Regions from separate parts of the Homo sapiens genome. Here all the other regions are linked to region 1. The links come from fine-mapping of genetic effects on gene expression. A gene starts in region 1. Each other region holds a variant in brackets. All regions are shown on one strand. Distances are between the middles of the regions. Region 1 holds the start of CHMP7 (charged multivesicular body protein 7). Region 2 has its middle 11 kb from the start of R3HCC1. Region 3 has its middle 12 kb from the start of TNFRSF10D.

Region 1 (4,240 bases):
CTACTCTGCAGTTCAATAGCTAAGGTTCTGCCTTTTTTTTTCTCCTGTCTTCATGACAGCCTAAGTTTGGTTCCTAAATCAAGTCCTTTCTGGTTTGATAGTTGGTACTTCTGCTTTTTTTTTTTTTTTTTTTTTTTTTTTGAGACAGAGTTCCGTTCTTGTTGCCCAGGCTGGAGTCCAATGGCGTGGTCTCAGCTCACCGTAACCTCCGCCTCCCGGGTTCAAGCAATTCTCCTGCCTCAGCCTCCCGAGTAGCTGGGATTATAGGCATGTGCCTTTTGAATTTCTTAGTAGAGATGGGGTTTCTCCATGTTGGTCAAGCTGGTCTCGAACTCCTGAGCTCAGGTGATCCACCAGCGTCGGCCTCCCAAAGTGCTGGGATTACAGGTGTGAGCCACCGCGCCGGACCAATACTTGGTACTTCTGAAATAGCAGCAATTTGTCCTAGCTGAAATATAATAATAAAATTTTGAATTTTTTTTTTTTGAGACAGAGTCTTGCTCTGTCGCCAGGCTGGAGTGCAGTGGCACGATCTTGGCTCACTGCAAACTCTGCCTCCCGGGTTCAAGCGATTCTCCTGCCTCAGCCTCCTGAGTAGCTGGGACTACAGGCGCGTGCCACCACACTCGGCTAATTTTTGTATTTTTAGTGGAGACGGGGTTTCACCATGTTAGCCAGGATGGTCTCCATCTCCTGACCTCATGATCCGCCCGCCTGGGCCTCCCAAAGTCCTGGGATTACAGGCATGAGCCACTGCACCCAGCCCAAGATTTTTTATTTTTAAAGACACTCAATAGTTAAAAGTCAACTTAATTAAAAGCTAATATTTAAAATGTATGTGTATGTGTATGTGTGCATAAGTGCATGTTCATATTTAAAAGGCCTTCATGGTTTTGTTTTTGTTTTTCTCTGCTAGGACCTTGTCTTTTTTTGAGCAAAAACTTTTTTTGTTCTCAATTGACTCAATTCTGTTTCCACTCGATTTTTTTTTTTTTTTTTACTAAAATAGTTATTGCAACAGAGGCTACTCTTGGGTTTTTAAGAAAGAGTATAGTTTAGACACTTAGAAATGCTTTGTTTACAAAAATGTTTTAAGTGCACTGTAAAAGCATCATGTGGTCTAGCCTCATAATAATTCTCCCTTTTTGGAGACCCAGGATTCAGTGTGGGCTCTGCCCAGAGCTCAGAGATCCAGTTAAAAAAGAATTGGTAGTCCCTATCTAAATAACAGTGGTCTCCTTATACAATCCAGTGATAAATTTCTATAATTTTATGTTCAATTGGCAATTAAATCTGTTTTAATTTCCCTCTAGCTCACAGAATTTCTCTTCAGACCTTATAATGTAAATTTTGCTATCTGACTTTCACCTGAGTTGTTTCCTTTAATATGCAAATTTAAGACTATTTAGCTGACTACTGCCTAGCACTGTGAAACAGGTTATCAAGAATCTGAAAGTCTAAGATAAAGAAAAAAGGTTTTTATGAATCTGTAAGATGTACTTCTTCTATCAGCATGCCTAATACATCTATGTATTTATATGTTATGTATACAATGTTGCACTCCTGAAAATATATCAAAGAGCTCTAATTAATTGTCTTAAAAAATAAAAGCATTTACATCAAATACTTTATTAGAAAAAGGAAAGACTAGTCAAATGCTTTTTCAAGTTATGTGACTTAAGTAAAATCTTTAATAAATAAGCTATCTTTAAAATTATTGGTAAAGTAATATTAGAAATGTCTTAGGAATTGCCAGCATACATTTTTATTTGCGTTTATTAATCAAGCAATTTCATACTTAACCCTGCCAAATACTATTAGGTGTCAAAATTTGGCACAGGCTATAAACCCAGCCCAAGACAGAATGATCTCTGCTCGTGTAACCATTAATAAATAAGACATTGATACTGGTTTAATGAAAATAGCTACATCTTGATTTAGTAAAATTACCATAACTTCTAATCTTGTGGCAGTCTAGGCAGTCTAGTCCACAGGCAGTAAGGAGTTTTGTTTTGGGAAAGGACTGTTATACTTTGTTTCAAAGTTAAACTATAAGTAAACTTGCATGGGAAGAGAATGTTTAATTTTGTGAAAAACGACCAAACTGTCTTCCAAAGTAGCTCTTAGAGACAACCTGTCCACAGAAGAACGCAGCAAGCCCCCTCCCCTAAATGCCCTGCAGCTTATTTCTTCTGAGATGCTGCCCCTACTTCACGTTACCAGAACTTAGGTACAGCTGTATCCACCCCCAGGCCAAACCACATCCTGGTACTCTAAGCCAGGTGGGGCAAGAAGTGACAAACAACTGCAGGATGTAGACTAACCTCAGAAAGCCCCTAGGCCCTCAAAGCCCTATATAAGTCCCTCACCTTAAACACCCTGGGCTGCCTCCTCTGACTGTTATGCAGCAGGCCGGCAGGTCAATAAACTTGCTTGCCTGACTTTGAGTATACTCGTCTTTTCTCTTGGCCAACCTTACGGTAGCTGTACCAGTTTGCATTTCCACCAGCAATGAATGAGAGTTCCTGTTGCTCTGCATCCTCACCAGCATTTGGTGTGGTCAGTATTTTGGATTTTCACCATTCTAATAGGTGTGTAGTAGTATGCTATTCTTGTCTAATTTGCTGTTCCCCAATGACATATGATGTTGGGCATATTATCATATACTTATTTGCCGTTGGTAGATCTTCTTTGGTGAGAGGTCTGCTCAGATCTTTTATCCATGTTTTAACTGGGTTATTCTTTTTCTTTTTTTTTTGAGTCTTAAGAGTTCCTCGTGTGTTTTGGATAACAGTCCTTTATCAGAGATGTCTTTTGCAAATAGTTTCTACCAGTCTGTGGCTTATCTTCACATTCTCTTCACAGTGTCTTTCAGAAAGCAAATAATAATAATAATAATAATTACGTCTAATTTATCAATTATTTCTTTCATGGATTATGCTTTTTGTGTTGTATCTAAAAAGTAATCATGATGCCCAAGGTCATCTAGATGTTTTGTCTTCTAGGAGTTTTATTGTTTTGTGTTTTTACATTTAAGTCCATGATCCATTTGAGCTGGCTTTTGTGAATGGTGTAAGATCTGTACCTGGATTTGTTTTTGTTTTTGCATGTAGGTGTACAGTTGTTCCAGTGCTCATTGTTGAAAAGACTCTTTGAACCATTGTATTGCCTTTCTTTTTTCGAAAGGTCAGTTGACTGTATTTACATGTGCCTATTTCTGGGATTCCTATTCTGTTCCATTTATCTATTTGTTTATTCTTTAACTAATACCACACTATCTTGATTACTGTTGATTTATAGTAATTCTTGAAGTTGGGTTGTATCCGTCCTCTGACTTATTTGTTCAATATTGTGTTGGCTCTTCTGGGTCTTTTGCCTTTCCACATAAACTTTAGAATTAGTTTGTTGATATCCACAAAATAACTAGCCATGATTTTCACTGGGATTTCACTGGATCTACAGATCAATTTGGGAAGAATTGATATCTTGATAATATTGAGTTTTCCTGTCCATGAATATAAAATGCCTCTGTATTTATTTAGTCCTTCATAGATTTCTTTCATCAGAATTTTGTAGTTTTCCTTATGTAGAATTTGTACATACCGTGTTAGATTTATACCTAAGTTTTATAGGGGGGTGCTAATGTAAATGGTATTGCATTTTTAATTTCATATTCCACTTGATCATTATAGGTATATGGGAATTGACTTTTATACATTAACTTTGTATCTGCAATCTTGTTCTCATTGCCTCTTAGTTCCAGGACATCGATTTGGCAATTCTTTCATAATTTTCTGCATGGATAATTATGTCTTCTATAAAGACAGACCATTTTATTTCTTCCTCTTCAGTCTGTACAACTTTTATTTCTTTTTCTTGGCTAACTGTGTTAGCTAGGATTTCCCGTACAGTGTTGACTAGGAATGGTGTGAGCAGACATTCTTGTGTTATTCCTGATTCCACTGGAAAACGATCTAGGTTTTCACCATTAATTCTTATGTTGGCTGTAAGGTTCCTGTTTATGTTCTTTATCAAGTGGAGGATGTGTCCCTCTATTCCTAGAGTGCCGAGACTTTTTATCATGAGCTGGTGTTGGATTTTGTCAAATGCTTTTTCTGCATCTAGCAATATGATCATATGATTTTTCTTTAGTCTGTTGGTGGATTATATTAATTGATTTTTGAACATTGAACTAGCCTTGCCTAGCTGTAATAAATTCCGCTTTAACCTGGTGTACAAT
Region 2 (4,240 bases), 34 kb after region 1:
GGAAGAATAAAAAATAGGTATATCCTGCAGCTTATGAAAATCACATGCCTATATTATACATGCACTATAGAGATATACATTTGGATACATACATTACAGACAATTTTATGTGAAAAGAGCAGGAGTCTAGAGAGGAAACAACCGATCATCATAGCACTCAGAGACAACCACTGCCCACATTTCAGTATATTTTCCTTCACTGTCTTTTCTATTGCCTTTTTTTTTTTTTTTTTTCCTTGAAACGGAGCCTGGCTCTGTCACCCAGGCTGGAGTGCAGTGGCTCAATCTCAGCTCACTGCAACCTCCGCCTCCCGGGTTCAAGCGATTCTCCTGCCTCAGCCTCTGAGTAGCTGGGATTACAGATGCCATGCCTACCACCACACCTGGCTAATTTTTGTATTCTTAGTAAACATGGGGTTTCACCATGTTGGCCAGGCTGGTCTTGAACTCCTGGCCTCAAGTGATCCGCCTGCCTCCGACTCCCAAAGTTCTGGAATTACAGGTATGAGACACTGTGCCCAGCCTCTATTGCCTTTTGTTTAGTAAATGAGATCAATTTTGTTTCATTTTTTTCATAACCTTTAAACTTTTAAACATAGGTACTTTTTATGCCGTTACAAAGGCTTAATATTCATTTTTAGTATCTATTTTTCCTCCATCCCCTTGGGCCCCAGTGTGGCCACAGACAGGCTCGATGTGAGGTTGGCTTTCGAGCTAGGGAAAATAAATCTGGATTTTTTAAAAAATTATTTTATTTTATTTTACTTTTTGAGACGGAGTCTCACTCTGTCACCCAGGCTGGAGGGCAGTGGCACGATCTTGGCTCACTGCAATCTCTGCCTCCTGGGTTCAATCAATTCTCCTGCCTCAACCTCCTGAGTAGCTGGGATTACAGGCACCCACCAACACGCCCGGCTAATTTGTATTTTTAGGGGAGACAGGGTTTCACCGTGTTGGCCAGGCTGCTCTCGAATTCCTGACCTCAGGTAATATCCTTGCCTCGGCCTCCCAAAGTGTTGGGATTACAGGCATGAGCCACCATGCCGGGCCATAAATCTGCATTTGGAGGTAGTGTCCAAATTTCTGCAAAGTCATTTCATTGTAAGGAGACCTTCACAGGAGATCCCCTCACTCCATCTGAGTTCCCATGACTCTGCCCTTTAAGAAGAGGCTAGAACTCTGGAGAGGTTGAGGTCTCCTGGGAACTGAGGGACAACAAAAGTGTCAGAGATTTGGGGGGTGTGGCGGGGACTCTCCTGGCTGGCATGGCACACACACACAGGCTAATCAGGTAGAGCGAGAACTAGGGAAGATGACTCATTCCCCTCTCCCACCAGCCCCTGCGCCTCCGCACCCTCCCCTCTCTCCCACTTTCCCTCTCTAGTTTTGGCCCTTTCTCCACCATCTCTGCCTTTCTCTGCCCTTTTATCACTCCCACCGCCTTGGCTCCAGAATGGTCTTCACTTCTGGAAACAGCTGTGGCTTATAAGAGTTTCTTAGTTGATTTTCTTGGATTTTTTAGGTTAAAAAAAAAAAAAATCAAAGGTCGGGTGTGGTGTCTCATGCCTGTAATACCTGCACTTTGGGAGGCTGAGGCGGGAGGATGGCTTGAGCCAGGAGTTCAGGACCAGCTTGGGCAACATAGTGAGACCCCCGTCTCTACAAAAAATACAAAAATTAGTCTGGTGTGGTGGTGTGCATCTGTAGTTCCAGTTACCGGAGGCAGGAGGATGGCTTGAGCCCAGGAGTCCAGGTTACAGTGAGCTACGAT[C/G]ATGTCACTGCACTCCAGGCTGGGTGACAGAGGGAGACTTTGTCTCAAAAACAAACAACAAACAAACACAAAAACCACCAAAAACACAAATATTCTGCAAACAATGAGAAGTTGATCACCTCAAATGTCTAAACTTTCCAGTTTTTATGTCTTTTTGTCAATTTGCTTTTGTTAATACCTCTTTAAAAAAAGGTAAACACTAGAGGCATGGGTACATAGCCTTGACTTGTCCTGAAGTGAATATGGTTCCTCTGTGCTTCTCCATTTAGCCGTGTGTGGTGTTTTGATCATTTTATTTAGATCCTTAAATGAATTTGCGTAGAGTTGTTCTAACTGTGAGTTGGGTAAAGAACATATAATAATGTTTCGCTTTTTGAAACATTCTCTCTGTCACCCAGGGTGGAGTGTGCAGTGGCGCAGTCTCGGCTCACTGCAAACTCTGTCTCTTGGGTTCAAGCGATTCTCGTGCCTCAATCTCCCCAGTAGCGGGATTACAGACGTGAGCCACCACACTCAGGGTTTTGCCATGTTGGCCAGGCTGGTCTTGAACTCCTGACCACAAGTGATCCGCCCGCCTTGGCCTCCCAAAGTGCTGGGATTACAGGCATGAGCCACCACGCCCGGCCTCTTTTTAATCCATTTTAATGTTTGTAATATAATTGAATTATCCCACGTCTGGTTTGCTTGAAACACTTTGGTGTTACTTTTTTTTTTTTTTCTGGCTTCCTCTCCCTCCCCAGTTATATTTTTCTATATGGGCAGTGTTTCTTTCTTAACCAACTTCCCTAACTTCTGGCAATTATTTGGAAAACATAGCATTTACTGACTTTGCCATAGTTATACGCCTCTTCTCCTCCCCACCATACTTTGGAATGTACTCTGGGGTTCCTGTCCCAGTTTATGGCGATAAAGAAATTGCTTTTGTTTTTACATTCTGTAGTCTTCCTTTCAAGATTTATAATATTTGTATACCATTTTGTTGCTCTGATTATTTAAGTTAATTGAATGTTTTAAGTAAATGAATTATTTAGCACAAGGTCTCTTCTCCCAGGTCATCCCAGCTTGTGAGTCATTTATTTGAATTCATCTCTTGGTTGTGGGGACCATGTCTTCCAGTGGCTTTCTAGGAAGGACCGTGAATCTCAAAGCATAACTCAGAAATATTTCATGAGCTGGGTAACTAATTCACAAGCACACCAAGGAGACAGACATTAGATTCTTACCAAGGCACAAAGACCTAAATAAATAAACAAACAAACCAGTGGGAGGATTTATAAAGACAGAAGAAAAAGGTGCCAGCCTAGGCAGGGTGATTTTTCTAATGATTAGCTGGAGGCTATCAAAGAGGCTAGTCTGGGTGATCTGTTCTGGAAGAGATTGAAGAGGTCACTAGAGAAAAAAAAAGTTATCTGTGGATTTTGCAAGATGTCTTTTGAGTAAAGCTGTGCAGTACACGTGACAGGCTGTCCCTACACAGTGTCTGCCAGTATGGCCTGGCATCCCCACCTGACAGGCCAGCATCACTCCATTTCTCTTGGCAGAATGTGACTGCAGGTTTGAGAATATCTTTCTATTGCCATCACATTTTATAGAATTTCCCAGTCTTAACATTTTCCATCTAAAATTCTACAGATATTGTTCCATTGCTTTCTGGCAGATGAGTTGCTAGGAAAATCTATCAGCCACTTAATTTTTTTCCTTTGAATTTTGCCTAAATCAAAATTCATTTTTTTAATTATCAGAGAAAATATTTTTACCATAATCTGGATCAACCTTTTATTTATATATTTATTTTCTAGAACACCATTTTAATCTGTAGATTCACATTTTCTTTTGTTTTAATAAAATATTGTTGTATTTAACATTGTGTGTGTGTGTGTGTGTGTGTGTGTGTGTGTGTCTGTGTGAGACACAGGGTATCACTCTGTCACCTAAGCTGGAGTACAGTGGCACAACCACAGCTCACTGCAGCCTCAACCTCCCAGGCAAAAACGATCTTCCCACCTCAGCCTCCCAAGTAGCTGAGACTATAGGCATGCGCCACCATGCCTAGCTAATTTTTTTTTTTTTTTGGACGGAGTCTCGTTCTATTGCCCAGGCTGGAGTGCAGTGGCGATCTAGGCTCACTGCAAGCTCGGCCTCCTGGGTTCATGCCATTCTCCTGCCTCAGCCTCCTGAGTAGCTGGGACTACAGGTGCCCGCCACCACGCCCAGCTAATTTTTTTGTATTTTTAGTAGAGATGGGGTTTCACTGTGTTAGCCAGGATGGTCTCGATCTCCTGACCTCGTGATCTGCCCGGCTCGGCCTCCCAAAGTGCTGGGATTATAGACGTGAGCCACCGTGCCCGGCCATGCCTGGCTAATTTTTTAAATTTTTGGCAGAGACGGGAGTCACTCTGTTGTCAGGGCTGGTATTGAACTCCTAGGCTCAAGTGATCCTCCTGCCTTGGCCTCTCAAAGTGCTGAGAT
Region 3 (4,240 bases), 68 kb before region 1:
GCTGATTGGTGTGTTTACAAACCTTGAGCTAGATACAGAGTGCCGATTGGTGTATTTACAATCCCTGAGCTAGACATAAAGACTCTCCACGTCCCCACCAGACTCAGGAGCCCAGCTGGCTTCACCTAGTGGATCCCGCACTGGGGCTGCAGGTGGAGCTGCCCGCCAGTCCCGTGCCGTGTGCTCACACTCCTCAGACCTTGGGTGGTCCATGGGATTGGGGCGCCATGGAGCAGGGGGAGGTGCTCGTCGGGGAGGCTTGGGCCGCACAGGAACCCATGGAGTGGGTGGGAGGCCTCAGGCATGGCGGGCTGCAGGTCCCGAGCCCTGCGCCGCAGGAAGGCAGCTAAGGCTCGGTGAGAAATCGAGCACAGGGCCAGTGGGCTGGCACTGCTGGGGGACCCAGTACACCCTCCGCAGCTGCTGGCCCGGGGGGCTAAGTCCCTCATTTCCCGGGGCCAGCAGGGCTGGCCGACTGCTCCGAGTGCGGGCCCGCCAAGCCCACGCCCACCCGGAACTCCAGCTGGCCCGCAAGCGCGCACGCAGCCCCGATTCCCGCTCGCGCCTCTCCCTCCACACCTCCCTGCAAGCTGAGGGAGTGGGCTCCAGCCTTGGCCAGCCCAGAAAGGGGCTCCCACAGTGCAGTGGGGGGGCTGAAGGGCTCCTCAAATGCCGCCAAAGTGGGAGCCCTGCCGAGAGCAAGGGAGGGCTCTGAGGACTGCCAGCATGCTGTCACCTCTCAATTTCTTAATATTTTCTTTTTTTTTTTTTTCGATGGAGTCTCGCTCTGTTGCCCAGGCTGGAGTGCCGTGGTGCTATCTCGCCTCACTGCAAGCTCCGCCTCCTGGGTTCACGCCATTCTCCTGCCTCAGCCTCCCCAGTAGCTGGGACTACAGGCGCCCACCACCGCGCCTGGATAATTTATCTTTTGTATTTTTAGTAGAGACAGGGTTTCACCGTGTTAGTTGGTCTCGATTTCCTGACCTCGTGATCCGCCCACCTCGGCCTCCCAAAGTGCTGGGATTACAGGCCTGAGCCACCGCGCCAGGCAATTTCTTAATATTTTCTTAGCTAGAACTTTGCCTTTTTGTCTGAGCCTATAGCACTCAGGGTTTTGGGTAGTAGGGCTGGTACCTCATGTTTCTTAGATCTGTTAATGAGTGGGACCAGTGCCTGCGCTCAGGTGGTCAGGCCAACATCAGATGGGTCCCTGGCAGAATATTTTTTCCTAACATATTCCTCTACTGGTTTCCAGGGGTCAGTAGATGTCAATATGGGTTGTGGTGGTATAATTTCTTTAAATTTTTCGTGAAGGCCTCGAAACAAATTAAATATAATCTTTAAAATTTTGTTTTATCATATACAGGGTGTTTATGCTAAATCTTCATTCAGAAATCTAATGATTGTTGAGAGACCAGATTCCTGAAACAGGCAATCCAGACTCCAATATGTAGTGCTAAGGCTCTGATTCAGGGACCACTAGAAGAGAGAGGGTCCAGCTAGTCTCACGTTAGCAAACACTTAATGTCACTCACACTCCCCGTTCACTCTTCCTCCTCCAGGCCAGGGCCTCTCTCCCCTGAGCCCACATGGGGCCTGTGGTAAGCAGTTTCTGAAATGGCCCCAGTGTTCCTCTCTCTTGGTATTCATGGCTGGGACGTAATAAGAAACATCTGTTTTTTTCTCTGCTCCTGGTTTTGGGGCCAAAGCTTCAAAACACTGATGTTTCCTGAGCAATTGTGGTGAGAGGGGCTTTATTTATTTTAATCATAAAACGACTTCCAGCATTCCTGAGTTGATGCTCATGAGGTGGCTCTTGGAGGAGAGGGTCCGGCCGCCAGTGATCAGAGCAATGGAACTTTCAACACTAGCACATCCCTCAGCTCAGAGCAGGGAGATGACTGAGGATTAATCACCATAGATTAATGATTGACGCCTTCGTGCTATGGAATGAACCTGCCATAAACACCATAAACCACAA[G/A]GTTCAGAGGAAGGAATAATCAGTCGCTCACTGGGGTTGGACAGATGAGAGTAACACAGAAAAATTAAGGGCAACATCACACTTTCTATATCAAAAGTAATGTCCATGGACTTTACATCACTATATGCTACAAATCTAATGATTTAATAAAATCTCCTTAAGAAATTAGAGAAGTTCATTTTATTTTATGTTGGGCAATGGACTTTCTAAGTTTATGACCAAGAAAAAAATAAGTGTACCTATAGATTTAGCTACTTAAAATTTAAAATTTCAGTACGTTAAAATCTAAGACAAAAAGAATAGGCAAATTTAAAAAACCAGAAATCTGTTATTAGTATTTGGGAAGCATGAAGCCTGTCTTTCTAGACAAAACAAATCCTAAAAAATGAATTTGAACAAAGAAATTTAAAGTACTGACCAATATATGAAACATATATCAGAGAAATGTCATCAAAGTCAACTAATTCTTTCCTAGTTAGGAAAAATGAAATCCAAAGAACAGTGATGTCAGATCTAAAGTGATGCACTGTTGGTAGGAATCACAGCTGTGTGTGTGTGTGTGTGTGTGTGTGTGCGCGCGCGCACCTGTACGGGTTAATGCCGATATTCTACTTCTTCTAGAAAATTGCCTAATGAATGTGATTAGAAATGTGGCCAAAGATGTATTCTCAAATATTCACAACTTCTTTGCCCTTCGCATACTGGTGATAGAGGTTTTGGGGAGAGGGGCTGGTATTTGGGTGGAGCATGACACTGGACTCTCGCCTTTGCCCATCTTGAGAACACAGGCCATCCTCTTAATCTTTGGAGGGGGACTCACAGGATGTTTATTAACTTTATGTTTTGTGGGGGGCTTTGGGCAGGGTCCGAATGTTAGGAAAAGGGGCACAGAGCTGAAGAATGAGTCGCCTGTAATGAAGTATCACACACAGTGAGCCCTGCCTAGTGCTGGCTTGTGGGAAAAAGGAAGAATAGAGCAGGAGGAAAGAAAGGTCAAGTCTAAGAAGAGGAAAGATGAGACTGGAGGATTGTGGAGGGTTCAAACCATAGCTCACAGCCCAGGGTTTCAAGTGAGGCCGAGGAGTTCATGGGGAGGGCAAGTGAGAAGCAGGGGGGACCCGGAGCAGTACTCCCTTCCCTCTGGGGAAGGGGAACAGCATGGGAGCACGCCTGGGCCTCCCAGGAGCTATAGGCAAGAGGGAGGGGTTCCTCCAGGGCAAGGAAAACAGGAAATGGGTCTCCCAGATGCCTGCAGGGCTGAGCAACCTGGTCCCACTCATGAGGATGCAGGGAAGTTCAGGGGAGAAAGCGAAGATCGGGCCAGGGCTGGAGGAAGCCACAGGAGAGTGACCACAGGACTTTCCTAACAACCAGGGCCAGCTCACCTCTCAGGAGGACCCACTGCTCCTTCCTTGACGGCTCTGTCAGAGCCCAACTGCAGCCCCAGGTGCAGCCAGAGGACCCCCCGGGAGGCTGTGGGTGAGCCAGCCCAGTGCTAGTGTCCCTGTCTCCAAAGGGAGGGGAAGAAGGAGGTGCTGGATTCAAGTCCCCAAGACTCTGTCACTTTAAGTTCCAGGGAGTCAGAGGCAGGAAACAACCCCACACCGACTTCAGCAAGCCTGAAGGAAGAGAAGGCAGGAAGGTGTGAGTCACAGCAAGAACACAGCCTGTGTTACTCAGAGCTGTTTCAGGGAAGAATGGGAGGACAGGGGCAAAAAGAAAAACAAAACCTCTACACTTCCTTTATGTAAGTTTCCATAGTTAATTTGGTCATGAATTCACACATATCTCAGGATTTTACCCTTAATTGCCTTCTTTTTATGTTTGATGTTACCAACATACTCTTCAGATATGATCATCTACTGCTTTCTCTAGTAGGAGAACAGACAAGCAAGGGAAGGTCTGCTTTTGTGAAGCAGTTCCTTCCCTCCTTGCACACAGCAGAGGCTATCTGGCCTGTTCTTTTCTCCTGTCTTCAAATTAGCGGATTCTTTCTTCTGCCTGATCAAATCTGCTGTGGAATTTCTCTACTGGATTTTTCACTTCAGCTATTATATTTTTTTCAGTCCCAGGATTTCTACTGGGAACCTTCGAATATTTCCTATATCTTTGTGGATATTCTCTATATGTTGATACAGGTATGTATAGATATCTATAGATGCATCAATGTTTCCCCAGAAGAAAGGTGCAGGTGCTGCTCTGGGTTTCCCTAGAATATTTCCCTGCAGCCCCTGCCCATGGGCTCCTCAGCCTCACCCT

What was found. PIP is the estimated chance that this variant, and not a neighbour inherited with it, causes the effect.
Region 2: its variant is the best candidate, but not a certain one, in a credible set for the expression of CHMP7 in tibial artery (GTEx, PIP 0.62).
Region 3: its variant is the best candidate, but not a certain one, in a credible set for the expression of CHMP7 in whole blood (TOPMed, PIP 0.83).

What each region holds. Positions count from the first base shown.
Region 1 is chr8:23,241,254-23,245,493 of GRCh38, forward strand. CHMP7 (charged multivesicular body protein 7) reads left to right here and starts at 2,384. Exons shown (of 11, transcript NM_152272.5): 1 at 2,384-2,591. RefSeq lists an enhancer at 2,076-2,577.
Region 2 is chr8:23,274,859-23,279,098 of GRCh38, forward strand. No RefSeq gene overlaps it. Among named protein-coding and RNA genes, the nearest start is that of R3HCC1, 11 kb to the right of the region's middle. The variant C/G (reference allele first, on the strand shown) is at 1,772.
Region 3 is chr8:23,173,611-23,177,850 of GRCh38, forward strand. No RefSeq gene overlaps it. Among named protein-coding and RNA genes, the nearest start is that of TNFRSF10D, 12 kb to the left of the region's middle. RefSeq lists enhancers at 1-491, 2,833-3,389. The variant G/A (reference allele first, on the strand shown) is at 1,982.